Regions from separate parts of the Homo sapiens genome. Here all the other regions are reported to be linked to region 3. Evidence: microRNA targets listed by miRTarBase, many of them from high-throughput screens and not tested one by one. Region 3 holds a microRNA gene; each other region holds the end of a gene's coding sequence.

The links. Region 3 holds the annotated microRNA hsa-miR-509-3-5p (UACUGCAGACGUGGCAAUCAUG, at 2,385-2,406, opposite strand). A microRNA usually pairs through its seed, bases 2 to 8, with sites in the 3' UTR of a target mRNA and lowers its output. Matches are read on the target gene's strand: a 7mer-m8 pairs with bases 2 to 8, a 7mer-A1 pairs with bases 2 to 7 and ends in A, and an 8mer does both.
Region 1: miRTarBase lists CRK as a target of hsa-miR-509-3-5p. Seed matches in the 3' UTR shown: 7mer-m8 at 4,523-4,529.
Region 2: the mRNA of SLC4A2 is a reported target of hsa-miR-509-3-5p. Seed matches in the 3' UTR shown: 8mer at 785-792.
Region 4: miRTarBase lists CEP89 as a target of hsa-miR-509-3-5p. Seed matches in the 3' UTR shown: 7mer-m8 at 3,456-3,462.

The regions. Positions count from the first base shown.
Region 1 is chr17:1,417,716-1,424,869 of GRCh38, forward strand. CRK (CRK proto-oncogene, adaptor protein) reads right to left here. Exons shown (of 3, transcript NM_016823.4): 3 at 2,978-5,935. The coding sequence ends at 5,798. It overlaps CRK-AS1 (CRK antisense RNA 1), which reads left to right and starts at 6,871. Exons shown (of 1, transcript NR_198965.1): 1 at 6,871-6,950.
Region 2 is chr7:151,075,715-151,082,714 of GRCh38, forward strand. SLC4A2 (solute carrier family 4 member 2) reads left to right here. Exons shown (of 23, transcript NM_003040.4): 21 at 1-61; 22 at 299-472; 23 at 573-809. The coding sequence ends at 653. FASTK (Fas activated serine/threonine kinase) reads right to left here and starts at 5,095. Exons shown (of 10, transcript NM_006712.5): 1 at 4,971-5,095; 2 at 3,786-4,208; 3 at 3,128-3,307; 4 at 2,848-2,987; 5 at 2,165-2,378; 6 at 1,907-2,066; 7 at 1,596-1,687; 8 at 1,387-1,522; 9 at 1,199-1,313; 10 at 910-1,118. The coding sequence starts at 5,052. The coding sequence ends at 1,011. TMUB1 (transmembrane and ubiquitin like domain containing 1) reads right to left here. Exons shown (of 3, transcript NM_001136044.2): 2 at 6,461-6,879; 3 at 5,371-6,186. The coding sequence starts at 6,849. The coding sequence ends at 5,835. RefSeq lists enhancers at 1-509, 510-1,485, 1,486-2,461, 3,438-4,414, 4,415-5,390 and 1 more and silencers at 1,288-1,367, 4,830-5,509.
Region 3 is chrX:147,257,312-147,264,465 of GRCh38, forward strand. It overlaps MIR509-3 (microRNA 509-3), which reads right to left and starts at 2,415; the gene lies at 2,341-2,415. It overlaps MIR509-2 (microRNA 509-2), which reads right to left and starts at 1,539; the gene lies at 1,449-1,539. It overlaps MIR509-1 (microRNA 509-1), which reads right to left and starts at 3,314; the gene lies at 3,221-3,314. All of the region lies in intron 2 of LOC105373347 (periphilin-1), which reads left to right.
Region 4 is chr19:32,872,493-32,879,646 of GRCh38, reverse strand. CEP89 (centrosomal protein 89) reads left to right here. Exons shown (of 19, transcript NM_032816.5): 19 at 269-3,722. The coding sequence ends at 485. Among named protein-coding and RNA genes, the nearest start is that of SLC7A9, 6.3 kb to the right of the region's middle. RefSeq lists an enhancer at 3,606-4,491.

The sequences.
Region 1 (7,154 bases), not on the chromosome of region 3:
AGTGCAGTGGCGTGGTCTCGGCTCACTGCAAACTCCGTCTCCCAGGTTCAAGCCACTCTGCCTCGGCCTCCGGAGTAGCTGGGACTCAGGCGTCCGCCACTACACCTGGCTAGTTTTTTGTATTTTTAGTAGAGATGGGGTTTCACCGTGTTAGCCAGGATGGTCTCGATCTCCTGACCTCATAATCCACCCGCCTCGGGCTCCCACAGTTCTGGGATGAGGCGTGAGCCACCGCGCCCGGCCTGCTCTGTTTTTGAGCTTCACTTCTAGATGGCTAAAGGTTCTTTTTTGCCTCTACCTTATCTCCCATTTCACAGTCTTCAGAACATGGGTGGCAACAGCACGCCACTTTCTCCGCCTCTCCCTGTCAAACTTAGCAGGGTTAATGGTTATTTTCACATTTTCTTCTATACCGGCCCCCTCTCATCTTTTCATACCTGTAAGAGGAACAGAATTTAACCTGGAAGTCCAGGTCATAAAATACGACAGCTGGTATGAATACTGTAGACTATATAAAAGAACACGCCATTCAACAGGGTTTTTTTTGGTTTTGGGTTTTGTTTCAGACAGGGTCTTACCCTGTCGCTCAGGCTGGAGTGAAGTGGCACAATCTCACTGCACCGTCAGCCTCTTGGGTTCAAGCAACTCTTCTGCCTCAGCGGCCTAAGTGGCTGGGATTACAGGCGCACACCACCACACCCAGCTAATTTTTTTTTGTATTTTTAGTAGAGACAGTGTTTCACCACGTGGGCCAGGCTGGTTTCAAACTCCTGATCTCAAATGATTCCACCACCTAGGCCTCCCAAGTGCGAGGATTACAGGCATAAGCCACTGTACCTGGCCTGCTTTCAGGCCTTTATATGATTCTTATGGTCCCCTCAAATCAGTATTTTATGACTCATACTCATGGAGACCTTTAAAAATATCACCAGGCCAGAGGCCGGGCGCAGTGGCTCACGCCTGTAATTCCAGCACACTGGGAGGCCGAGGCGGGTGGATCACCTGAGGTCAAGAGTTCAAGACCAGCCTAGCCAACATGGTGAAACACCATCTCTACTAAAAATACAAAAATTAGCAGGGCCTGGTGGCGTGCACCTGTAATCCCAGCTATTCGGGAGGCTGAGGCAGGAGAATCGCTTATACCCGGGAGGCAAGGTTGGAGTAAGCTGAGATCACGCCACTGCCCTCCAGCCTGGGGCACAAGAGGAAAATTTTGTCTTGAAAAAAAAAAAAATCACGAGGCCAGGCGCGGTGGCTCACGCCTGTAATCCCAGTACTTTGGGGGGCCAAAGTGGATCACCTGCGGTCAGGAGGTTTGAGACCAGCCTGGCCAAAATGGTGAAACCCCATCTCTACTAAAAATACAAAAATTAGCCAGGTATGGTGGCACGTGCCTGTAATCCCAGCTACTCGGGAGGCTGAGGCAGGAGAATCGCTTGAACACAGGAGACAGAGGTTACAACGAGCTGAGATAGCGCCACTATACTCCAGCCTGCACAACAAGAGTGAAACTCCGTCCCCGCCCCCCACCCTGCGCCCCGCCAAAAAAAAAAAAAAAAAAAAAGGCCGGATACGGTGGCTCATCCCTGTAATCCTAGCACTTTGGGAGGCTGAGGCAGGCGGATCACCTGAGGTTGGGAGTTCCAGACCAGCCTGACCAACATGGAGAAATCCCGTTTCTACTAAAAATTCAAAATTAGCCGGGCATGGTGGCGCATGCCTGTAATCCCAGCTACTCGGGAGGCTGAGGCAGGAGAATTGCTTGAACCCAGGAGGTGGAGGTTGCAGTGAGCCAAGAACGCAGCACTACACTCCAGCCTGGGCAACAAGAGCGAAACTCCATCTCAACAAAAATAAATAAATAAATAATTAAAAAAAAATCTGTGTCTATATATATCACCATTGATTAATCCCATCTTTTTTTTTTTTTTCCCTGAGATGGAGTCTTGCTCTGTCACCCAGGCTGGAGTGCAGTGGCGTGATCTCGGCTAACTACAATCTCCACTTCACAGGTTCAAGTAATTCATCTGCCTCAGCCTCCCGAGTAGCTGGGACTATAGGTGCACGCCACAACGCCTGGCTAATTTTTGTATTTTATTGATTGATTAATTGAGACAGAGTCTCGCTCTGTTGCCCAGGCTGGAGTACGGTGGTGCCATCTTGGATCACTGCAAGCTCTGCCTCCCGGGTTCAAGCGATTCTCCTGCCTCAGCCTCCCGTGCAGCTGGGACTACAGGCGCGTGCCACCACGCCCGGCTAATTTTTCGTATTTTTAGTGGAGACCGGGTTTCACCATGTTAGCCAGGATGGTCTCGATCTCCTGACTTTGTGATCCACCCACCTCAGCCTCCTAAAGTGCTGGGATTACAGGCGTGAGCCATCATGCCCAGCCAGATTTTAGTATTTTTAGTAGAGACGGAGTTTCACTATGTTGGCCAGGCTGGTCTCGAACTCCTGACCTTCTGATCCGCTCGCCTCTGCCTCCCAAGGTGCTGGGATTACAGGCATGAGCCACCACACCCGGCCTAATCCCATCTTTAATAAGCACCCACTGAGCTTGTATAATTGTTTATCTAATTATATGACTGCAGGCTGCTGAAGGCACATACCTCCTATCCCCTAAGCATAAAGATTTACCTCTCGCTGGGTGCGGTGGTGGCTGAAGCCTGTAATCCCAGCACTTTAGGAGGCGGAGGCAGGCGGATCACCCGAGGTCAGGAATTTGAGACCAGCCTGGCTAACATGGTGAAACCCCATTTCTACTAAAAATACAGTAAATTAGCTGGGCGTGGTGGTGCATGCCTGTAACCCCAGCTACTCGGGAGGCAGAGGTAGGAGAATTGCTTGAACGTGGGAGGCGGAAGTTGCAGTGAGCCGAGATCGCATCACTGCACCCCAGCTTAGGTCACAAGAGCGAAACTCTGTCTCAAAAAAAAAAAAAGATTTAGTTCTTTTGTGAAAAATATTCAAAGATTACTTTTTTGCAAAAGATCACCAAGCCAAACATTTGGCCATATTTTTATTTACTACATATACTATAAACATATACAATACATGCTACCAAAAAAAATTTTTTTTTAAATTTAACTGTCAAGAAAGTGTATAGTGTTATAATACAATGGCACATGTTTATATTTTATTTCAAATTGGTTTGCTTATCACCTATTTCAAACCATTAACAGTGAAATGTTACTTGTGGATAATTAAAAATTATCTATTTGCATTATTAACAATAAACAATTCCAACAAATTAATAAGAATTAACCATGTCAAATATTAGTATTCAAAAAATGGGATTTGCAGAAATGATTATATAAAATATAGCAGCCAATTTCAGTTTACTTTGCCAATAGGATTTCAGCATTTGCTTTTTTTTGGAAGACACTTATAAGACATCCTTTGATTTCTTGAGGGGCATTAACTGCCACACTCAACAGTCAAATCCAGCCCAGTGGTTCATGAACGGCCCTGGATCACTGATCACTGAGGAATCCTTAGGACTTGAGTAGCGCTGCCTGTTCCACTGATATTACATATGATGAAAAGAGACATTACAAGCCAATATCAAAGTCAAAGGAAAAGAAAATAGGAACATTCAAATCAGTTGTGACAAGGTTTTTCTACAAGTATTTTTGATGCCATACTTTCAGGAAAACAAGATTTAATGTGTGTGTGGACTTTACAGTATCTACGTTCTAACTGAAAATTTAACAAAGCAGTCAGATGGAATTACATGTAGTATTACAAATGTGTTCATTCAACACTAATGAGCACCCACTCTGTGCATAGCACTGGGCTACCATTTTACAAGTTGAGTTTAACGTCTTTATCAAGCATGACCTTAGTGTGAGGTAAAATACATTAAATTAGCGTCAACGCGTTAGTCTGCTTGCGGCCATGTACGGAATCCTGGGCCAGCTGGCTTCCCTGTGCCACGTCACCGGTTTCTCAGGTCTCCTCATTCACTCAGACAAATACGTGCACACTGACTGTGTGTCAGACAGTGTGCCGGTCACTCGGACACCACAATCTGGTATAGGTTCAAAGAATGTAAATTTATCATTTTAACCTATGCAGAACAATTAGAAAGGCAGATTATTTTTCCAAAATGAGGTCCAAAGCAAACTATAAGGTGTTTCTATTGGTCATACCACACCAGAGACCGGTAAGTGCCTTTATAGACTGAGAACTAACGTGGAAGTTTCATGCTGTCGTCTAAATAGCCTAGGTCATTTTTGGTCTCATAGGTCTATTTTGTGGAGCACCTGACCCCATATAAATCATTCCATACTTAAATGGGTTTGTAAACTAAACCTGAACATAAACAAAGAGCCAAAAATGAAGGCAGTTTACAATGTAATGTTCTTCAACAGCATTACTCTCCCCATGAGAAATGAATAATACATAAGTAATTCACAATTGGTTCAACATTTTTTTTTCTTTTTTTTTTCCTTTTTTTTTTTTTTGAGACTGAGTCTTGCCCTGTCGCTCAGGCTGGAACGCAGTGGTGCGATCTCGGCTCACTGCAGCCTCCACCTCCCAGGTTGAAGCAATTCTCCTGCCTCAGCCTCCCGAGTAGCTGGGATTACAGGCGTGCACCACCACGCCGGGCTAATTTTTTATATCTTTAGCAGAGATGGGGTTTCACTATGTTGGCCAGGCTGGTCTCGAACTCCTGACCTCATGATCCACCCGCCTCGGCCTCCCAAAGTGCTGGGATTACAGACGTGAGCCACCGCGCCCAGCCGGTTCAACATTTTTTCAAAGCACTAACCCTACCCCAAATTCATGTAATACTAACTTGACTTTTATACAAGTTGCACAGAATGCAGAGGGCAGAATTTGACCCCAAAACCTTCCACAGAATATCAGAGGTGATTGGTCCTTCCACTCTTGAGTAGAACCTAAGAATTCCAAGAGTCTCCTAATAGGATACTGGCCCTCTGGAGAAATGGCCCTGCTGGATCCCATTAGTTAGGACTCTAGTTAGCTGCTGTAGAAGGGTGACCTACTACGACCCTTTTGGGGAAGGCAGAGAGCTGGGAGACTGGCTGTCCACTTAGTGAATCCAACACTGGCTTAAAGCTATGCACTGAATAAAGTGCTCGGTACATCCTGCTTTTCACCTGGAATGAAAATACACACTTATCTTAGGAATTCACCTACTTACAGGTTTGGGGGACAAGAATGTCAAGGGCTAAAAGAATCCCAAGAAAAAGTATGAAGCATTGACTAGGAGGGAACAAATGCTTCTAGTAGTGTTCTTAGAATTCTTAGGATCTGAAATGTCAGAATGAGTCACACGCTGGTCATGCTCCATACAATGAAAGCAATCCTGCTTGATACTATTCACACGGTGCATGATTACTTCACGGGGGTGGAACGGAACAGTCTGTCGCCATTTGATAGTATGGTTCCAGAATGAAAACAAAACCACTGAATAAATCAGGGTAAGCAGTGTGTAACACTCCTTCCTGTCCATCGGTTTTCCACAGGGTGATTTGCACTGCCTGAGAGAAAGGAGGCAAGATACCTATCCCTTCTGATACACACAGGCACGACCACTACCGCCTCCAATTGCCAATTCAGAAGCTAACACACAAGCCCTCCAGTTCGTACCCTGAATATGGTAATTAAGACTAGGAATGGAGCAGTTCAGTCTAAAAAATATCACAGGTAACAGAATGCTTATATAAACTAGACTGCTTTTGACATCTGTAAGAAAATTGTATAGATGGCAGTTGGAAAAAAAAAAAAAAGATTGTTCCCATCTGTCAGCAAAACTGTTGAACTATACTCAGCTGAAGTCCTCATCGGGATTCTGTTGATCCAGCAGACGGACATGTGTGAATGGGAAGTGACCTCGTTTGCCATTACACTCCCCTTCCCACTGACCACTCACATTAATCTTCGTAACCTTTACCAGCTCACCGACCTGCAGGAGGAGAATAAGGAGAGCACTTTATTTCCAGGTAGGAATGCAAGCTGAACAACTCCATTCTCTGGTTAGGCACACCCTGCCCATGTGACTGCTCTAGGGATATTACAGAAATGGCCATTTGCTGCCTCCCCAGCCCCAGCCACCAGACTGATTACTTGTGGTTAATGCAGGCAGAAGGAAAAGTGTTTTTAGCAGTGTGGAAAAACAGAGAATACAGAAAGTAAAAGGGATTCCAGATAATGATACTTTTTGATTAAAAAAGGAAAGTGATAATTATTGGAAATCTCAGCTGTCTCTGCATGAGCAATCCCAACTTCAGTGAGTTAGCTACTATTCCCTTTCTTTGTACTCACTACCCTCAGCTTTCTGCCTGCTCCGCAGGCCCTGTCCGAGGAGAAGCAGCTTTCTCCGTTTTTTTTTTTTTTTTTTTTTGAGACGGAGTCTCTGTCACCCAGGCTGGATGACAGTGGCGTGATCTCAGCTCACTGCAAGCTCTGCCTCCCAGGTTCGAGCAATTTTCCTGCCACAGCCTCCCGAGTAGCTGGGACTACAGGCGCCTGCCACCGTGCCCAGCTAATTTTTGTATTTTTAGTAGAGATGGAGTTTCACCATCTTGGCCAGGCTGGTCTCGAACTCCTGACCTTGTGATCCACCTGCCTTGGCCTCCCAAAGTGCTTGGATTACAGGCGTGAGCCACTGTGCCTGGCCGCCTTCTCCCCGCTTTAGCATATGGCAGCAGCACAATCCCCCAGCCCACTCGCACAAGACCTGGCCTGTTACTGCTTGCACAGCAGAAAGCGATCATGGCAAGCATAGGTCACTTGGTCCTAGAGAATCAAGTGTTCCTATCACCTCCTGACCCAGGCAAGCCTTTTCCCATATGGGCAGGTAGAGGCCAAAACTCCAGGTCCAATTAGCTCCCAGAAAACCCCCACCTCATTCAGTAAGCTCTACTTCACAAGCCACTGCCTGCCCAGCCCCCAAATCCCACCATCGGACAGACCTTGCTGCTCCCTCAAAGCCGCTTGTTACCTGATCATTACCCAATGAGGGGTCAAAAAAACCAACCATGGCCGGGCGCAGTGGCTGACGCCTGCAATCCCAGCACTTGGTGAGCCTGACACAGGTGGATGGATTGCTTCAGCTCAGGAGTTTTTGAGACCAGCCTGAGCAACATGGTGAAACCGTCTCTACAAAAAATACAAAAATTAGC
Region 2 (7,000 bases), not on the chromosome of region 3:
GCGGCTGCATCTGCTGCTCATGCCGCCCAAACACCACCCAGATGTCACTTACGTCAAGAAGGTGAGCCCCCCAGCTCCCCACCGGAAGGGGTGTGCCTCTGGCCATCCTGGTCTACTTGGGTCACTCTCCAGCTGCCCCCTCCCATCTGCCCAGTTCAGCCAGCCCCCACCTCCTCTCTGTACCAACCCAGCTCTGGCACCTAGGAATGTTCTTCCATCCCCGCCTCCGAAGAAGAGAGAGGCTCTTCCCAGCAGCAGGCTAGGGAGGAAGCTGGGCTCACCTGTCTCCGCCCCCCAGGTCCGGACCCTCCGTATGCACCTGTTCACGGCCCTGCAGCTGCTCTGCCTGGCCCTGCTCTGGGCCGTCATGTCCACAGCTGCCTCCCTGGCCTTCCCCTTCATCCTCATCCTCACAGTGCCGCTCCGCATGGTGGTGCTCACCCGTATCTTCACCGACCGAGAGATGAAATGTGTAAGCCCTCCCGTCTGCCTCCCCCGGTTCCTCTTGCCTCCCTGTGGATCTGGAAAGGCCCCCCCACTTCCCTTCTTGACCGCCACCTCCCCACACACAGCTGGATGCTAACGAGGCAGAGCCGGTGTTTGATGAGCGGGAGGGTGTGGACGAGTACAATGAGATGCCCATGCCTGTGTAGCCGCCACCGAGGGACAGCCGAGGGACCGATGGACGAGGGGACAGGCTGGTGGGATGGGGTTCCCCCTCCCATGCCCCTCCCTCCTTTTTATTTAAGTGAATAATTTAAAGTCTTCTCCTCCCCCACTGCCCCTGCAGTAAAGTGCTTTGGCCCCCACCTATCTGTGGCCTTTTGTCTTTGTATGGGGGGCGGGGCATGAATGGAAGAGGCGGGGGACTCAGCTCTGCTCCCCGTCCCAAAACTGAGATTCACAACGGGGAAGGAAAGGAACTTTAATGAGAAATCAAAACACAGGGAACCAAAGTGCAAATCATCCACCCCCCATGGGGGGGCCATCCTGAACCCCACATCAACCCCTCAGCCCCCTTCAGGCCCCCAGCGCAGGCCCAGGGCCTGGAGCTTCTGCCTCAGGTAGCTCTTGAGCTGGGGCAGGCCTCTCTGGGACTCCAGTTCCTCGAAGGGTAGCTGTGGGGAGAGGAGAGGGCGGCAGGTTACCCGCAGGCTGGGAGTGAGGATGCGCCACGGGCCAGGCCAGGGCCACTCACCGGCAGGAGCTGGTAGCCCATCAGGCCTAGGTGCCGCTCCCTCAGGGCCCTCGAGCCCAGCAGCACCCGGCCGTCCCGGCAGAAATGCCAGCGTTCCCGCAACACCAGCACCACCCTGCAGGGGGAGGGACGTGGCTCAGGGCATGGCGGGCAAGGTGGCCAGGGCTCCCCCACCCTGCCTCCTTTACCTCTGGGCAGGGTCTCGAGTAGTGGCGCTAGAGGCAGCCTGGCCCTGTGGGCAGGACCTTGGTGGGTATGGCAGGAAGGGGTCCTGGGTCCTCACGGGAAGCACAGCACCAGAGCTGCTGGCGCACAGCAGGAAGTCTGGAGGGGAGCAGGGCCGGCGGCCTTAGCCAGGGCTCCGTCTCCCCGGGCCTGCCGCCTGCCCCTTGCTCACCTGTGCAGTAGCCTGGAGGCACAGTCAGGTCCTGGCGGTATTTCTCCTCCCCCAGCAGCTGGCGCAACCCCTCAGCTACTATGTCCTTGTGACTGAGGAGAAAGGACACCAGTAGCAGGAAGGGCCCGGCACCTCATCCTAATCTGTCCCAGTCTAGTGCCACCACCCTGGGCAAAGCCCTCTGCTGCTTCAGGGCCCAGTTTTATGGTGGCCGAGAGCTCCTTAGCTTTGGCGCTTCATGGTCCCTCTGGCTTTTCCACTCTGCTGGTCCCAGGCTGGCCCCTCCCCTTGCCCCAGGCTGCCCCATCCACCTGTACTTGCAGCGGGCACGGTCGGTGATGAGAGGCTGGGGAAAGATGGGCACTTGCTGCCTTCGGGGAAGGCGGGGACCCCGGTATCCTGGGAGCTCCAGCTCCACGGCCGTGTCCAGCAGGGAGAGGTAGCGACGCACAATCAGAGCATGAGGGGTGCCTGTGGGGAGGCGGGGACTGGGGCTCTGGGCTGCAGGCCACCCTGCTCCCCTGCCTCTCCAGCCCTCAGGGGCCCAGCCAGCCATCCTGGCTGCGTACCACTGATGTAGTTGATGAAGCCAGGGGAAAAAACAAAGTGCAGGGCTCTGAAGGGCAGGCACCGCAGTTGGCACAGTGACATCAAGATGTTGACTGTAGCCAGGGGTGCCACCCCTGCTTCCCGAGCCAGGATCCTCTCAAGGCAGGGCATAAACTGCTGTTCCAGGGGCAGGTAGTTCAGTCGCCCAAAGGGCAGGACCAACTTCTGTACCACCTGTGGAGGAAGAGCAGTTCATTACCCAGTGTCAAGTATTTCTGCAGTCATCTTTTACAAGCTAAGCCTTAGAGAGGCTTAGCCCTCAGGTTTACAACACTGCTGTAAAGACAGGACAGTCCCTCCGGCCTCACAGTTCAACAGCAAAGCAGTCACGAGCTGCACGTGACTAATCACCAGACAGGCAGAGGGGACATCGCTGTGGGGTCTGGCCCTGAAGACTTCGAGAGGGATGGGTGGAGCTAGGATGCTGCTAAGAGTGCTTTGGGAAACTGCAGATTTCCAGGAATGCATGCTGCTGACAGGAGGTGGGCAAGCCACAGAAAGGGTGTAGAAAAGATGCAGGTCCCAGGGGACAGAGAGGGTGTGTCTGCTTCAGGAAAAGGATAGCCGAGCTGCACGAGGCGCTGGGCCTGACAAGGTCCCTGAGAATGACAGAGATGCACTGGAGGGTGGGTGGCAAGCCCACCTTGCTGCTGAGTTGCGTTTCCTGAACCACCAGGAAGTGGGCAATGGCTTCCAGAAGCTGGGGCTCCCGCAACCGGTGCCGGGCCAGGTGCTGGGCCAGGAGCACCATCACGTGGGGAGTCAGTTCCTCTGGCCTTGCCTCTGTGAAGAGCAGCCTGTCACGCTGGGCCTCAGCCGGACCTCCGGCTGGCTCAATTCCACCTCAGCCCAGCCAACTGAGCCCACCTTCCTCCTCCTGTCAGCCCTCCCCACCCCCATCTGATTTTAACCCCCTCCAGCACCTGCCAGGCTGCTGATCAGATGCTGCCGTGGATACCGCAGAAAACGGGGGCAGCTTAGAGCAGCTTCCAACCCTTGCCCACCTCGGAGAAGGGGCTGCAAAGGGGGAGGTGGCTTCGGAGGGAGGCGGAGCCTTCGCTCCTGTTCCAGGGCACACACCAGGGGACCATCAGATGGAAAGCCTGAGGGGGAGAGGTAAAAGGCAGCCTGGTAACAGAGCTGTGCTGCTGTTCTTATCATGGGGTTACTTGGTGAATTCTCCACCTTTCTCCTCTCCCGTTTCCTGAGCGGGAAGGTGTGCTAGAGTTTAAGTGCAAACACTAGAGACATGTAAAGTATCATGTGGCTATGAGGTATCGAAACGGTTTGTAGGGAGTACATACAAAGATGGCAAATAGGCTTTCATCTCATACCAATTGTGACAAATTATGGTGGCTTCCTAGGGCACTCTATTAGCAGGAATCTGGGGTGGCACCCTAGCGAGGCCGGAAGGAGTGCGTTCGACTCATGATGTCTGCCGCAGACATAGGACGGGAGCAGGAGCAAGCGTTCCTGGGCAAACGCCTGAGAGGCTGGGTCTCTGTCCGTGGTCCTCTACTGTTCTCCCTATTCTTCATTAACACCTAGCCCCCCAGGCGCCCACCTCAAGCCCCTCCTCACCAAGTAAGACTGCAAGGTGCAGACACACGTGGATGGTGTGAATGTCAAAGGAGGGGCAGTTTCGGATGATGAGCTGACTCAAGTCCTGCAGTGTGACCTGCTCCACAGGAGGGGGCCGTGGCCGAGACCCCAAGAGCTGGCCCAGACGACGAAGCGCCACCGAGTAGTGGTGGGCGCGCACCTTGCTGGGGTTCTGGCCCAGCCAGCGCAGCAGCTCCCCAGGGCTCTTCGCCTGTTCCAGAAGCCGCTGCAGTCCTTGCACAGGACCTGCACTGGGGCCTCCTCCAACAGGCCGGTCCCCCCATTTGCTGGGCCCCAAACAGCAGGGCTGTACTGGAGGGATCAGCAGCAGGCCAGACAGCCGAGCAGGGGAGGTCTGAGCAGAGAGCAGGACTCGAAGCATGGAGTTGGGTGATGGAGACCCTGAGGGGCAGCCCAAAAAAGGGGGTGAGGTTTTCTCCAAAGGGGAGAAAGACCTGCTACCTACTGCTTACCTCACTCCTCATTTAGGGGGCCTGTGGTCAGAGCAAGCCTTTGTGACTGCTCTGGGCCTCTTCCCCACCCCGCCCCTCTGCCTCCTTCCACGCCTTTGAAACAGCAATCATAATCCTCAGTGCGCTCAGCGCAGCACTACTTGCAAAGCAATTCCACATGCACCATCTCTGATGCTCCTTACACGCCCATGAAGAGTAGGCAGGGCTGGCATTACCTCATTTCACCGGTGGAGAAACGCAGGCCCAGAGCAGCGAAGGGGTTAAGTTAAGCCCGAGGTCATTAACCGGGTTAGTGGTCGCGCCCAGTCTGGAGCCCAGGCGGCACCGGCGTGCACTCTCCCGACCACCTCCCTCTCCCACAGGAGGCGGCGGCGGCACAGAGGGTGGAACGCGGGCTCCGCGGCTGGACGGTGCTGGGTTCCATGCTGGGCGCTCCCACTCACCAGCGGCGTGACCTTGGACAAGTGGCTTCGTCTCTCTAAGTCTCCTCACCCGTGAAATGAAAACGCAGCGCCCACCTCGCAGGGCGCGCGTGGAGCCCGAGTGCACCGCTTTGCGATGGCGCGGAGTCGGCGAAGTCGGGGGCCCCAACACCCACCCCGGCCCAGGGACGCCAGGAGACCGTGGCCGCTGCCGCTAACACCAGCTCCCGCTGCCCTCCCGCAGCCCTCCCCGCAGGCGCCACCCCTACATGACTCCCCGGGCCCTGCGCAGGTCGCTCCCTCAGTCGGTCTCGGGGCCCGGGGGCCGGGTTCCCCCCGCGGCCTCCTCATCGGCTAGCCACCGAGTCCGCCATCTTCCCAGCAGCCCCTAGATAGCCGCCCGGACGCCAATCCCGAAGCAGCTATCGGTCTTCGGAGACGTGGCTCCCGGCAGGCACTGCGAGCCAGGGAGCCGCGAGCCCCGCCCGCGGGAAGTGCGCGCCCGGCGCCGAGGGCGGGGCCACGGAGGCCGGCGCCAAAGCCAGAGCAGAACGCTGGGGAGAAGGGAAGGCGGAGGGCCAGACCCCAGGCGCAGTCCGTGCCCTTCTCTCCCAAGGGGCGAGGACTCCCCGCCCGCCAGCCCGCACACACTCAGACACACTGCAAGAGTGAAAACTTCACAGTTACTTTAATCTGCACGGGTTCCGGGGAACTCCTCTGCCCCTCCCCGCTCCCCTTCACCAGCCTCCCACCGACCTGGCGTCCCCAACTCAGCCCAAGGAGCTGTCAGGGATTGGAGGCGGCTGGGTCCTCCGGCAGAACACTAAGACGGGCCCCCGGGGCGGCCCGGCTCTGCCCGGGGCCGAGGCAGCGACAGCAGATGCCCGACCCCGAGGAGCCCACTCCCAGTGCGGGCTGAGGGTCAGCAGCCCCGGGAGGTGGCCCCGAGCCCCGGCGGTCGCAGGGCGGGGCCTCCGCCAGTCCCGGGAGTCCTCTGCGGCGCAGGGCTGGGCTCCAGGGCGGCGGGAAGAGGCAGGCCGGAGAGGCGGGCCTGGGCAGGCAGCAGCTCCCGCCGCGGCGCGGGGAGCAAGGTCCGGAGGGGCCGGCGACGCTGCCAAGCGCCCGCGGAGGCACTACGGGCGGTACATGGCAAAGGCCAGGAGACTGAGGAGCAGGGTGAAGCCGGCCAGGCCCAGAGTGGCGGTCAGGGGAAAGAAGGGCCGGTACTGGATCTGGCAGTACCAGAGCAGCAGCAACAGCAGGAGCAGCAGGGGCAGCAGCAGGCTGCCGATTTCCAGCCCGGAGGGGCCGGGCTCGGACCCCGGCGGGCAGGGGGGATTTGGGGGACCGACTCTCGTGGACACGTGGCAGTGGAGAACGCAGTTGGGAGGGAGGTGAAGGCTGCCCAGGGTCTGGGTGTCGTCGCCTAGCAGCTGCCCTTGGTAGATGAGTCGCACCTGCTGTTCCCGGCCGGGAAACTGGGTCCTGAGGAGAGAGGGACCTGGGTAAGAGAGCAGGCCTCAGGCAATCCTAGTCCCTGGCCCCGGAACAGCACTCCCACCCTCCCCCTGCCCTCCACAACACACCGGCCCTGGCCTGGGAGGGGCCGTCTGCCAGGGGAACAAGTACAGTTGTGATCTGGGGCGCTCAGCGCCTCCAGTATAAAGGAGGGCTGGGTCTTAGGTGTCTCTGGGGGCCTTCTGCGACCACTCTCCCAACCCCTGTCTTTAGCATTGCTCCTGCCTCTTGACCTACTTACCTTTTCAAGGAGCCAATGGTGTCGTGGGGCCAGGCCCTGGCCACCTGCTCTGAATCATTGAGGAATTTCAGCCGTAGCACGAGGGGCTCCTGCGGGGAGTCCGGGGCTGGCGGTGTTGCTGTGAACCCCGTGCTGGGCTCTGGCTGTGCAGCTTGACCTCTGTGTCTCAGGCTGGGGGTCTCTGCCCCTGGGGCCTCCCCTCTCATGCTGTCGGTAGCTGCCATGGCTGCGCTGGGCTGGGATGGCGTTGGGGTCCCTGACGGCTGGGGCAGTGGGTCCCCGCCCTCAGCGGTGTGCGTTGAGACCCAGGCAAGGGCCAGCACCAGAAGGCAGGCAAGCACCGAGAAAAGGACGGTCACCTCATCACCCACCCCTTCAATCAGGGTCATGGCGCCTGCCTTGCCCGCCGCGCTACCGAGCTGGAGAGGCACAAAGAGCCCGTGAGGCCCGGGCCCCCTGGCCAGGAGCCCTGGAACCTCCACAGGGTCCTGCCCTCACCCCACCGCGACGCTCCCACCGTCCTCAGCCTCCGTCCCCTCA
Region 3 (7,154 bases):
AGATACAGCATTAAAAGCATAATGCATACATTGAAAAACTGTTAAGTCGTACTTTATCAAAATTGAAAACATTTGCTCTGCACAAAATACTGTTGAAAATGAAAAAAACAAAACAGATTGAGAGATAATATATGTAAATCATAATTCTGGCCAAGAAATTGTATGCAGTATACCTATATATCTCTATCTATATGTATATAGTAAACCTCAAAGATAAGTGAACAACTCGGTAAAGGTGAGAAAAATCCCAAAGGCACTTCACCAAGGAAGATACATGAATGGTAAGTAAGTACATGTACAGGTGCTCAACATTTTCCGTCAGTAAGGTGATGCAAATTAAAACCACAACTGACAAGGGAACTATACACATATTAAAATTGCTAATAAAAACAAAACAAAGGCTTTTCAATACAAAATGCTGATAAGAAGTTGGGTAATTGGATCACTAATACATTGCTTAATGCAGCACAAAATGGTAAAACCATTCTGGAAATTATTTTTTAATTAATTTTAAATGTAAACTTACACTTGCCATGTGACCTTCAAATCCTACTAGTAGCAGTTTACACAAGGAAAATGAAACTTGTGTTCATATATACATCTGTATGCAAATATACAAAGTAGCTTTATTTTTAGCCATGAATAACTGGAATAAAACCTAGATGTCCACCTGTGACTTCTACCCTACTTGATTAAAAAAAAAAAAAAAACAGATTATTCTTGCTCTAATTCTGACTCTCATTCTCTCTCCTTTACCCATTTTCTGCTTCCATACACCCTCTCTCATCACTGAATGAGAAAGAAACAACATAAAGGAAGTAAATGAAAACCTAGAGATAAAAAATGTTTTTAAGTAAATGCAAAAAAATCAAACAATAAAAAATTCTCAGCATTATTCACAATTCCTGATATATGACTTACTAATAATAGATTAAAATATATTTACAAAAGAACGAATATGTACTTTATTAGCACATGAAGAAAGAGGACATTTTATATCTGAGATAGAATATATTTTGATTTTCAGAAGGTTAAGTGTTTAAGAAGCAGGAGGGAATTTTGGAAAGCTTAAGAAGACTTGAAAATGAGAAAGGAAGCTAACAGTTAACAGATTTGGATGTTGGAGTAGGCAATAGTTTCTGCAAAAAGAATAATACTCTTAAGGCAGAAAGAAACTGTAAAATGGCAAGATAAACCTTGGTTCAATCAGGCAACATCATAGAAATGGAAATCAATCTCAGAAGAACTCAATGGGAGGCTTGTTGCAAGGACCTTAAATTCCTAGATCACGTGTCTGGTGGTCAGGCACCTGAGAGAGTTTTCTGAGGTAGTCCAGCATGGAAGTGGAGGGTTTGTGAGGGTAAAATACCTGCACTGTAAGGAAAGCATCCCTCTGCATGCAACTAAATGCCTCCAACACACACACAGTGTCATCATGTATGTTGCACGTGTCATGCAGTACTCTACCCACAGACGTACCAATCATTTTTAATTATACATGATTGCCACTGTCTGCAGTAGGGTACCACACACAGCATGTCTGAGGATGGCAGCCTTGCCTTAATACCCACCCATTCACCTTTAAAACAACCATTCAATATTTACAAGCTGTGCGTGGCCATTGGAATTTGGACGAAGGACTTCTGCAGAATTCAATCCACTATCTTTCCTTATATTTCCCGCTTTGAGTCCTGTCCACTCCCACGTTGCATCTTTCACATGACAGTTTTCAGAACTGAGAAATATTAAACATTTCTGTTAGGTTCTGTTACTCACAGAAGAAATATCCTTGCATGTCTTATCCTGTTCCTTATAATAGATTAAAATGTATTTACAAAAGAACGAATATGTACTTTATTAGCACATGAAGAAAGAGGACTTTGTATATCTGAGATAGAAAATATTTTGATTTTCAGAAAAGTTAAGTGTTTAAGAAGCAGGAGAGAATTTTGGAAGGCTTAAGAAGACTTGAAAATGAGAAAGGAAGCTAACCATTAATAGATTTGGATGTTGGAGCAGGAAACAGTTTCTGCAAAATGAATAATACTCTTAAGGCGTAAAGAAACTGTATAATGGCACAATAAACCTTGATTCAATCAGGCAGCATCATAGAAATGGAAATCAATCTCAGAAAAACTCAATGGGAGGCTTGTTGCAAGGACCTTAAATTCCTAGACCATGTGTCTGATTAGGCACCTAAGAGAGTTTTTTGAGGTAGTCCAGCATGGAAGTGGAGGGTTTGTGAGGGTAAAATACCTGCACTATAGGGAAAGCATCCCTCTGCATGCAACTAAATGCCTCCAACACACACACAGTGTCATCATGTATGTTGCACGTGTCATGCAGTACTCTACCCACAGACGTACCAATCATTTTTAATTATACATGATTGCCACGTCTGCAGTAGGGTACCACACACAGCATGTCTGAGGATGGCAGCCTTGCCTTAATACCCACCCATTCACCTTTGAAACAACCATTCAATATTTACAACCTGTGAGTGACCATTGGAATTTGGACAAAGGACTTCTGTAGAATCCAATCCACTATCTTTCCTTATGTTTCCTGCTTTGAGTGCTGTCCACTCCCATGTTGCAGCTTTCACATGACAGTTTTCAGAACTGAGAAATATTAAACATTTCTGCTAGGTCCTGTTACTCACAGAAGAAATATCCTTGCATGTCTTATCCTGTTCCTTATAATAGATTAAAATATATTTACAAAAGAACGAATATGTACTTTATTAGCACATGAAGAAAGAGGACTTTGTATATCTGAGACAGAAAATATTTTGATTTTCAGAAAGTTAAGTGTTTAAGAAGCAGGAGGGAATTTTGGAAGGCTTAAGAAGACTTGAAAATTAGAAAGGAAGCTAACCGTTAATAGATTTGGATGTTGGAGAAGGAAATAGTTTCTGCAAAATGAATAATACTCTTAAGGCAGAAAGAAACTGTAAAATGGCAAGATAAACCTTGGTTCAATCAGGCAACATCATAGAAATGGAAGTCAATCTCAGAAGAACTCAATGGGAGGCTTGTTGCAAGGACCTTAAATTCCTAGATCACGTGTCTGGTGGTCAGGCACCTGAGAGAGTTTTCTGAGGTAGTCCAGCATGGAAGTGGAGGGTTTGTGAGGGTAAAATACCTGCACTGTAAGGAAAGCATCCCTCTGCATGCAACTAAATGCCTCCAACACACACACAGTGTCATCATGTATGTTGCATGTGTCATGCAGTACTCTACCCACAGACGTACCAATCATTTTTAATTATACATGATTGCCACTGTCTGCAGTAGGGTACCACACACAGCATGTCTGAGGATGGCAGCCTTGCCTTAATACCCACCCATTCACCTTTAAAACAGCCATTCAATATTTACAAGTTGTGGGTGGCCATTGGAATTTGGACAAAGGACTTCTGCAGAATCCAATCCACTATCTTTCCTTATGTTTCCTGCTTTGAGTGCTGTCCACTCCCATGTTGCAGCTTTCACGTGACAGTTTTCAGAACTGAGAAATATTAAACATTTCTGTTAGGTTCTGTTACTCACAGAAGAAATATCCTTGCATGTCTTATCCTGTTCCTTTTCACATTGCTACTTGCAAAGCATTAACTACCAGTTTGCATTCTCCATATCCATTAATTAAGTAGTAAATAATCCTCCATCTCATCAATCTCATATGATAAGGTTTGGCTCTGTGTCCCCACCTAAATTTCATCTTGTAGCTCCCATGATTCCCATATGCTGTGGGAGGGACCCAGTGGAAGATGATTGAATCATGGGGGCAGGTCTTTCCTCTGCTGTTCTCATAATAGTGACTAAGTCTCATGAGATCTGATGGTTTTAAATATGGGAGTTTTCCTGCACAAGCTCTCTATCTTTGCCTGTCGCCATCCATGTAAGATGTGACATGCTCCTCCTTGCCTTCTAACATGATTGTGAGGCTTCCCCAGCCACATGGAACTATGAATTCTCCATTAAACCTCTTTCCTTTGTAAATTGCCCAGTCTTGGGTACGTCTTTATCAGCAATGTGAAAATGGGCTAATACAGTAAATTGGTACCAGTAGAGTGGGACACTGCTGAAAAGATACCTGAAAATATGGAAGCGACTTTCGAACTGGGTAACAGGCACGGGATGAAACACTTTGGAGAGCTCAGAAGAAGACAGGAAAATGTAGGAAAGTTTGGAACTCCCTAGAGACTTGACTTGTTGAATGGCTTTGCCCAAAATGCTGATAATGATATGGACAATGAAATCCAGGTTAAGGTAGTCTCAGATGGAGATGAGGAACTTGTTAGAAACTGCAGCAAAGGTGACTCTTTATGTTTTAGCAAAGAGACTGGCAGCATCTTGCCCCTGCCCTAGAGATCTGTGGAACTTTGAACTTGAGAGAGATGATTTAGGGTACCTGGCAGAAGAAATTTCTAAGCAGCAAAGCATTCAAGAGGTAACTTGCATGCAGTTAAAGGCATTCCATTTTATAAGGGAGGCAGAGCATAAAAGATTGGAAAATGTGCAGCCTGACAATGCTATAGAAAAGAAAAACCCACTTTCTGAGGAAAATCCAAGCCAGCTGTAGAAATTTGCATAAGTAATGAAGAGCCAAATGTTAGTCCCCAAGACAATGGGGAAAGTATCTCCATGGCATGTTAGAGGTCTTCGTGGCAGCCCCTCCCATCACAGGCCTGGAGGCCTAGGGGGATAATGTTGCTTTGAGGGCCAGGCCCAGGGTTCCTGTGCCGTGTGTAGTCTAGGGACTTGGTGCCCTGTGTCCCATCCACTCCAACTGTGGCTAAAAGGGGTCAAGGTATAGCTCAGGCTGTGGCTTTGGAGGGTACAAGCCCCAAGCCTTGGCAGCTTCCATAAGCTGTTGAGCCTGTGGGTTCACAGAAGTCAAGAACTGAGGTTTCGGAACCTCCACCTAGATTTCAGAGGATGAATAGAAATGCCTGGATCTCCAGGCAGAAGTTTGCTGGAGAGGCAAGGATCTCACGGAGAACCTCTGCTAGGACAGTGCAGAAGGAAAAGCTGAGATCACAGCCCCAACACAGAGTCCCTACTGAGGCACTGCCTAGTAGAGCTGTGAGAAGGCCACCATACGCCAGACCCCAGAATGGTAGATCCACTGACAGCTTGCACTGTGTGCCTACAAAAGCCACAGACACTCAACACTGGCCCATGAAGACAGCCAAGAAGGAGGCTGTACCCTGCAAAGCCACAGGGGAAGAGTTGCCCAAGACCTTGGGAACCTACCTTTTGCATCAGCATGACCTGGATGTGAGAAATGGAGTCAAAGGAGATCACTTTGGAGCTTTAAGATTTGACTGCCCCACCAGATTTTGGACTTGCATGGGACCTGTAGCCCGTTTGTTTTGGCCAATTTCTTCCATTTGGATTGGCTGTATCTTCCCAATGCCTGTACCCCCAACTATATCTAGGAAGTAACTAACCTGCTTTTGATTTTACAGGCTCTTAGGTTGAAGGGACTTGCCTTGTCTCAGACAAGACCTTGGATTGTGGACTTTTTAGTTAATGCTGAAATGAGTTAAGACTTTGGGGGACTGTTGGGAAGGAATGATTGTGTTTTGAAATATGAGAACATGAGATTTTGGAGGGGCCTGAGTGGAATGATATGGTTTGGCTCTGTGTCCCCACCCAGATCTCATCTTGTAGCTCCCCTGATTCCCATGTGTTGTGGGAGGGACCCGGTGGAAGATTGAATCATGGGGGCGGGTCTTCCCTGTGCTGTTCTTGTGATTGTGACTAAGTTTCACAAGATCTGATGGTTTTAAAAATGGGAGTATTCTAGTGCAAGCTCTCTCTCTCTTGGCCTGCCACCATCCTTGTAAGATGTGACTTGTTCCTCCTTGCCTTCTGCCATGATTGTGAGGTTCCCCCAGCCACATGGAACTGTGAGTTCTCCATTAAACCTCTTTCCTTTGTAAATTGCTTAGTCTTGGGTATGTCTTTATCAGCAGTGTGAAAACTGATTAATACACCATATCTGTCACCTGAAGATATGAGTCCCTCTAAGTCTTGAGTTATGCACCTCAACTACTGAGACACAGAATAAACAAGAAAAACACACATGATCCTGGAATTAAAGAATAGAATAATCAGTGAATGATGAGATAAAGAGAGCAGAAATTTCCTTTCTTCCTCAGCAAGTAATGTGTAAAAAGCCCATTTTACTTATCAGGAGTAATCTACAAGATTAAAACTATACCTGTTGCCTAAGGATGCCCTCAAATTCTTTCCTAGGTTTTCAGGGTCTTTTCTTGGAACAAGTTTGTTTTGAGCATGCTATTGTATTTTTCCATTCTGAGATATACTACATAGTGTATGCATCTCCGTGGAAAAACTGAACCTGGTACATCAAGCTATGGGTATATAAATATGATGAATGAATGCCAGAGGATGAGGATTGAGGAGTTTAGGTGACTGTGGCCTACAAAAGGAATTTCCTTCCAGCACCCAATAAGTGCTATGGTATATTCATGGAAGTCATAGGCTTTCGGCATTTCTCAACCATCCCACACACCCAGCTTAATGGCTCGGAGACAAAACACCATGTGTACGTGGTAAGAAGTCAGGGGCACTCTTCCAATGCTCAGACCACTATTCTAGAGTGTACTGCAGATGCAGCATATGAAAACGTGGTCTACAACCACTGATAAGCAACATGCTCATAAAGCAGAAGTGTCCCTGTGAGGGAAGGAAGCCACTGCCCTTAATGCCATCTCCGGCTCAGTGATTCTAAGATTTTGCCTAGTGTGAGATGCTGGCCTAATATAGAATATTAAAGCTCTCCCTAAAGTAGGGGTCCCCAACCCCCAGGCTGTGGACCAGTACCAGTCCATGACCTGTTAGGAACCAGGCCACACAGCAGGAGGTGAGTGGTGGGCAAGCAAGCCAGCATTACTGCCTGACCTCCACCTACTGTCAGTTCAGTGGTAGCATTAGATTCTCATAGAAGCAAGAACCCTATTGTGACCTGCCCACGTGAAAGATCTGGGTTGCACACTGCTTATGAGAATCTAATGCCTGATGATCTGAGATGAAACAGTCTCATCCCAAAACCATCCCCTCCAACCTGGTCTGTGGAAAAATTGTCTTCCATGAAACCAGTCCCTGGTGCCAGGAAGGTTG
Region 4 (7,154 bases), not on the chromosome of region 3:
AATGCCTGTGCCGTCCTGCTGCTCCCCATTCCCAGGGCACTGGCCGCTTCATTCCACACTGAGCCCCAGCCTGGGCTGTCCTGCTGCTCCCCATTCCCAGGGCACCAGCTGCTTCATTCCACACTGAGCGCTTGCTTCAGAACCCAGGCACCGAGGGCTCTGTTCCCTGCTGATAGCGTTCTTCTGTTTTGAGTTCTTGCTACTTTGGGATTCATATGGGCTCTATATTATTTTTAAAATTGTGCCATTTTAAACTTATTTCCCTCAGAGAAATGGAAGGTGAACTTGAAGTTATTTGGGAATCTACCTTCAGGGAAAACCGAAGAATCCGAGAACTTCTCCAGGACACACTCACGAGGACAGGCGTGCAGGACAACCCCAGAGCTCTGGTTGCCCCCAGCCTCAATGGCGTCTCTCAGGCAGACCTGCTGGACGGCTGCGATGTCTGCTCCTATGACCTGAAGTCTCATGCCCCCACCTGCTAGAATCTGCGGGAGCCCGTGGTGTAGCCTCCTCTGGCCTGAAAGGTCTGCCTCACACAGGCCTTCCCTGCAGGGCAGCCCATGGTGGCAGCCGGAGGTGCGTAAGCCCACTGAACGCTGCAGGGCAGGGAAGAAATAAATGGTCTCATAGTTTAATCCATTGATAACATTTTGCTTTATTTTTTAATTTTTTTTTTTTTTTAGAGCTAGGGTCTCACTCTGTTGCCCATGCTGGAGTACAGTGGTGCAATCATAGCTCACGGCAGCCTCAAACATGTTTGAGATCCTTCTGCTTCAGCCTCCTGAGTAGCTGGGACCTCAGGTGTGCACTGTCAGGCCCAGCTAATTTTTTTCTTTTTTGTTGAGATGAGGTCTTGCTATGTTGCTCAGGCTGGTCTTGAACTCCTGGCCTCAATCTGTCCTCCTGCCTTGGCCTCCCAAAGTGCGGGAATGACACGTGTGAGCCACTGCGCCTGGCCCATTGTGCTTTATTTTAATAACGTGCTGCTGAAATCTGTTTTAGCCAGGGCATGTTCTCTGGCCACATTGCCACTGAGATGAGTTCTATGACACCCACTGCTCTGGTGAGTAGGTGGCCTGCTGAGCAGGCCTGCCTTCCAGCTCCTAGATCTGCAGCTGGGAAGTGCTGGAAGGGTTGGGCGGGCAGCTGAGCCCTCGTGCCATGTGTCAGATGGGGAAGTGTCACCCGAGGAGCCAGGCCATGGCACCGGCCCTGATGATAGCTGTGCGTGAGCTCTGGGGGCCTTTTCTTGTTTGGTCAAAAAAAACAAGGTGCTGCTGCTGTTCATGCCCTCTAAGTTGTACAAACCTTTTCTGCCCTCTCCCCTAGCCCTTCTCTATCCTCCTGAGCAAGTACTTTATTCTCTTTTGTTTAGTTGTTACTTTTGTTTGTTTGTTTTGAGACAGGGTCTCACTCTGTTACCCAGGCTGGAATGCAGTGGTGCAATCACCACAGCCTTGACCTCCAGGCTCAAGCGATCCTCCCATCCCAGCCTCCTGAGTAGGTGAGATGACAGGTATACACTAACATGCCTGGCTAATTTTGTAAAAAAAAAATTTTTGTAGGCCAGCCATGGTGGCTCACTCCTGTAATCCCAGCACTTTGGGAGGTCGAGGCAGGCGGATCACCCGAGGCCAGGAGTTCGAGACCAGCCTGGCCAACATGGTGAAACCCCATCTCTACTAAAAATACAAAAATTAGCTGGGCATGGTGGTGGGTGCCTGTAATCCCAGCTACTTGGGAGGCTGAGGCAGGAGAATTGCTTGAACCTGGAAGGCGGAGGTTGCAGTGAACCAAGATCACGCCATTATACCCCAGCCTGGGCAGCCTGGGCAACAAGAGCGAGACTTTGTCTCAAAAAAAAAAAATTTTTTTTTTGGTAGAGATGGGGTCTTGCTATGTTGCCCAAGCTGGTCTCAAACGTCTAGCTTCAAGCAATCCTCCTGCCTAGGCCTCCCAAAGTGTTGGGATTATAGGTATGAGCCACCGCGCCTGGTCTGGGAAGGTAATTGATTCTGGAGCCACACAGCTCCCCACCCATGTAATGAGAGCCCTGGCTTTGAGCTAAGATAGAGTCCCTGCCCCACTGCCACCACCAAGAAGCATACCAGGGGGCCATGGTTCTGTCCCATGTGTGTTAGATGACGTGCCACCTCCTCAGGAAAATTACCCCAGCCGCTCAGGACCATTCAGTCCCAGGCATGCTGGAGGGACTTGGGGACATTGGGCTACAAAGGACCCTAACTGTGGGACTCAGGGGTGGCACCCTGCAGCATCTCCTTTTCAGAGCCCCTCGCAGTGAAGTCCTGCCTTGTTTCAGGTGGGAAGGAGGCCCCAGTACTGGTCCTTGGTCATGTGTAGAAGTTCTACGTGTGATCTTTGATTGCCAGACGGAAGGGTGAGATAGAAAATCATAGTTCTTTTATGACTCTATAAGCTTGTTCAACAGTTGAATCATTGTAATTTAATTTTATTTTACAAGCGGTAGAAAGACTCACTGGGATTGAAAACTGTGTATCATCTCCCTAGGAGATGACCTAACAAATAACTGTGATGCTATTTCAAAGGCATTTACGGCCGCTCTGCAGCCTCCTGTAGACAGGCTGACAGGCGGCGGCAGCCCAGCGTGGCTGCGCGGGGCAGGAGTGCTTGTCAGCAGGAATGCTGCTCCCGCCATCGTGACCTAGAGAACCACTGTTGACATCCCTGTCTTTCTGCCTTTTATGCAAACATTTTATTCTTTTGAGAAGTGTCCACTTTTGTTCTTATGTTTCTGCTTTAAGTTTTTCACACAGTGCAAACATACTTTGCAAGTATGGGGACTCCTGGATGGCACTGTGACCAGGGCAAGGGCAGGTGTCCCACAGACACTATCTTCTGCCCAGCCTCCTGCTGGGTGCCATAGGAAATGGGCAGAGAAGCCACGAGTCCAGGATGCCAAGGAGGGCGGGGCAGGCAAGGCAGAGAGGCACCTGGGTGCTTGTGAGATTCCAGGAAAGGACAGAAACATTGGGGTGCTTCTGGGAGGAACTGGCACGCCCCGGCCCTTGCAGAGTGGACAAGGTTTCAGGAGCTACAGAAGGGTGGAGAGGGCCCCCAGGAGCACAGCAGGCACTCAGAGCAGCAGGAGGGGGTTTGGTCAGAGCTTGGGTGGGAAATGAGGCCGGACTGCACAGAGGAGAACTGGGTCTGCTGGGAGGGGCTCCTCCTTCCCCATGCTGCAAGTGTCTGGTCTGAGCAGGGAACCCTTCTCTTTCTTGGTCCTGGTGAGGTTTCATACGGCATTGGAAGATTCCTGGTCAAGCAGCTGTAGAACATGACCCAGGCACGCGAGTGAGCCTTGCTGGCTTTGCCATTATTTAAAAGCAGCCCTGGGCATGGTGATGGCGCCTATGGTTTCAGCTACTCAGGAGGCTGAGGTGGGAGGATCACTTGAGCCTGGGAGGTTGAGGCTGCAGTGAGCTATGATCATGCCACTGCACTCCAGCCTGGGCAACCAGGTGAGACCCTGCCTCAAAAATAATACAATAAAAAGTAAAAGCAGCCCTGGGGAAATGGAGACAGTGGACAAAGCAGGCTGGGGCACCAGGTGTGCATGTGGGTGTGAGTCTGTCATGAGAGCTGTCCTGAATGCCCTTAACGCCACTGAACTGTATGCTGGAAAACAGTGACAACAGTGGATTTTGTTATATAGACAATTAAAAAAGAAATAACACCCAGGCCTGCTTCCTGAGTGTTTGTGTCATTTTACTTTCCCACCACCAACCTCCGCGCAAGTTCCGGTTGCTCCGCATCCTCATCAATGCTTGGTGGTGTTGTCAATAACTGTGTTGAGAGGACAGAGATTTAAGGCCGAGGGTGGCCTAGCATTTAGCCTCGAGCGCAGCTGTCACTGGCTCCTCACCCCCTCCCCTACCTGTATCGTTGGCGGGAATGAAAGGCACAGTCCCCAGTGTGGGTGGCTCAGGAGAGCCCTCCCTGGGCCCAAGCAGCTCTTCCAGCAGGGAGGGCTTGAGCCGGATACAGATCCCACAGCAGGAGGCTGAGCCTCTTGGGATGGGGCTGGGCTGACATCTGAATTCTTGAGTAAGACTGGAAACATCATCCACTCAAAACTTGGCTGGGCGGCATGGGGAGGGCTCAGTGTGCCCAGGTTTGTGGCACCTCTCTGCTGGGTCACAGCTGGGCAGGGGTCCACAGGTAAGGAGTGGCTGCAGCCAGGAGTGGGAGAGGGGATGGGTACAGCTTGTTAGGCCTCTCTTGGTTTTCTCAAGGTGTGAGTCCATGGCCCCAAAGCTGGGCAGGAAACCTGCTGCCCTTCCAGCCTCCCAGGCTTGGCTTTTTTTTTTTTTTTAGTTGAGACAGTCTCGCTCTGTCACCCAGGCTGGAGTGCAGTGGTGCGATCTCGGCTCACTGCAACCTCCACCTCCTAGGTTCAAGCAATTCTCCCACCTCAGCCCCCCGAATAGCTGGGATTACAGGGTGTGTCTCACCACGCCCATCTAATTTTTTTTATTTTTAGTAGAGACAGGGTTTTGCCACGTTGGCCAGGCTAGTCTCAAACTCCTGACCTCAAGTGATCCGCCCACCTCAGCCTCCCAAGGTGCTGGGATTACAGGCATGAGCCACCATCCCCAGCCTCAGGCTCGGCTCTTTTCCTCATTTTTGACTAGGGGTGGACTGGGTAGGAGGGTTTTGGAGAGAAAGAAGAAGGGCGGCTTTTGTAGTTGATATTCACCTGCAGGGCCCCGCTGGGCTGCTTTGCAGGCCCAATGTCTGCAAACAACAGGACAGAGGTAGTGAGGACCCAGGCTGGGCTATGGAGACTTCAAACCTACGGAGCGCATGAGGCTGCTTCCTGGAACTGGGCATGCCACCTGCTACTGAGGACCCAGGCTGGCTCCCCGCGTCTGTGCTGGGTGCTCTGGGCCGCCATCCCCTTGTTCCACAGTCCACCCGTGTGTCAGCACTCTACAGAGGGTATAGATGAGACAGGGAGAGTGCACTGAGGTGACAGCATTGCTGCCTTGGGTCATCAGGAGCCTGGAGCATCTATTTCACCTGGTCAGGAGGGTCCTGAGTATTTTATTAAAGAATAATTCTTTGAAAGTGAAGGGTCTGTGTGTAGTATATGTAGCATACCAGGGCTGGGTTGCAAGCAACAGAACTATACTGCCCAATGTTAAGGGAAAGAAGGAAATATTTTGGAAATGTACACTCTGTGGCTTCCACCATGTTTTGAGAAGGACAGAAGCTGGAATAGCCTTGGGGTGAGGGTCTCAGTAGTTGAACACCGTCAGCCTACCCTGTGCTTCACTCAGGTAGCAAATCCTGGGAGACAATGGCCTCTTGGCTGACCTGACATCCTGAGCCCTCCTGTGTGGCCAGAGAAGTGAGGTCTTTTGGTTGGTAGCCCACCAGTGTCCCACAGAAAGGGACAGTTCCCCCCAAGTTGTGGATGCTGGGCAGACAGAAACAAGATTACAAAAAATGGTAACTTCCTATGTTAGAGTCTCCATCTGTCACCCAGACTGGAGTCCAGTGGCACGATCGTAGCTCACTGCAGCCTTGAACTCCTGGACTCAAGCAGTCCTCCTGCCCCAGCCTCCCAAGAGTAGCTGGGACTATAGGTGCACACCATCATGCCTGGATAATATTTTTAAATTCTTTTCGTAAAGACAGGCGCTCGCTATGTTGCCCAGGTTGGTCTCAAACTCCTGGCCTCAAACAGTCTCCCTGCCTCGGCCTCACAAAGTGCTGAGATTACAGGCGCACAGCCACAGCACCCGGCCCCCAAAATAGTAACTCTTTATTAAAGATGTTTGATGACACAGAACCCTCTTTCCCCAAAATCAGCAGCGATCACAACTTTCATCATGTGTGGCCACCGTGGTTGAGAAAAGAGGCAGCGACCATGAATCGTGACGAGGTCGGTGGGGAAGGGAGCAGGATGGGAAGTCGTGTTTTGACAGCATGCTGCAACTGTCTTCCCCACGCAGGTTATTTAATGCAAAACCATATTACTTGGAACACATAAAAATGATGGACAAAGTTCGAAGGCAGAATTGTACTATTCCAATAGTTGTTGGATATATATAGATTGTTCCTAGATAAGAGTTTTGAAATTATGTTTATGCTTTCCTTGCTAATTGTTTTATGGCTAGACAGCACGTCCCTGACATCGAAAGGCTTTGCACATCGCTAACTCATCACAAGTTCTTCTGGTTGGAATTCAGGTAGTAAGGGAACAAACAACTCTTCTATCTGTGGTAGTATGCCAGTTATTTCTGTCTTTTGGGTCCCCCTCCAAATCCCCAACTGCTACCGTCAGCAGCAGTGGGAAGGAATACAAGACCGAGTGAACTTAATGAATAGGAGAAGGTGAAAACTTGAAGGCAGGTCTGGAACAAGCTTTCAGCGGTAAAGGAAGATTCAGCCTCTGCCTGAATGTTTGCCCAAGACCTTGCCTCTGTCACGAGGACAGTGAATTAGAGAACAAGGCACCCAGCTGGGCAGCCCAGAGGCTGTGCAGAAATGGACTGACACTATGGGATTAAAGACGTCTTTAAAACCATCACAGGAGGCCAGGTGCAATGGCTTACGCCTGTAATCTCAGCACTTTGAGAGGCTGAAATGGGAGGATCACTTGAGCCCAAGAGGTCAAGGCTGGAGTGAGCCATGATCACGCCATTGCACTCTAGCATGGGAGCAAGAGACCCTGTCTCAGACACAAACCATCACAGGAGAAGGAAATGTTGGGGCTCAGGACACACCACCCCCAAAATATGACTGTAGGAGACTAGATATATATCACCCCAAATTATACTTCTTTGGAATATTTTGAGCTGGTTATTCTGAGAAACTGCAGACACAACAGGTGTAGCTCTGAAAAGCTGCCCTTTGCAAAAGAAATGTATGTCATGAAGGAAATCTACATTAGTACAAGTATCTGTACCAGGAAGAGACAACTTTTATTACCTGAGAGACTTATATCTGCATAACAAGACGACCTTTATTCGCCATGCATTTCCTCCCCTCACCATCCCATTACTAGTCCCTACCTGCCCCAGAAGCCCCAAGCCCCTAATCCTTATATAGCTCAGGATGCTATATAGGGTTTAGTCATCTGGCCCTTCTTCAAGTCTCTTGTT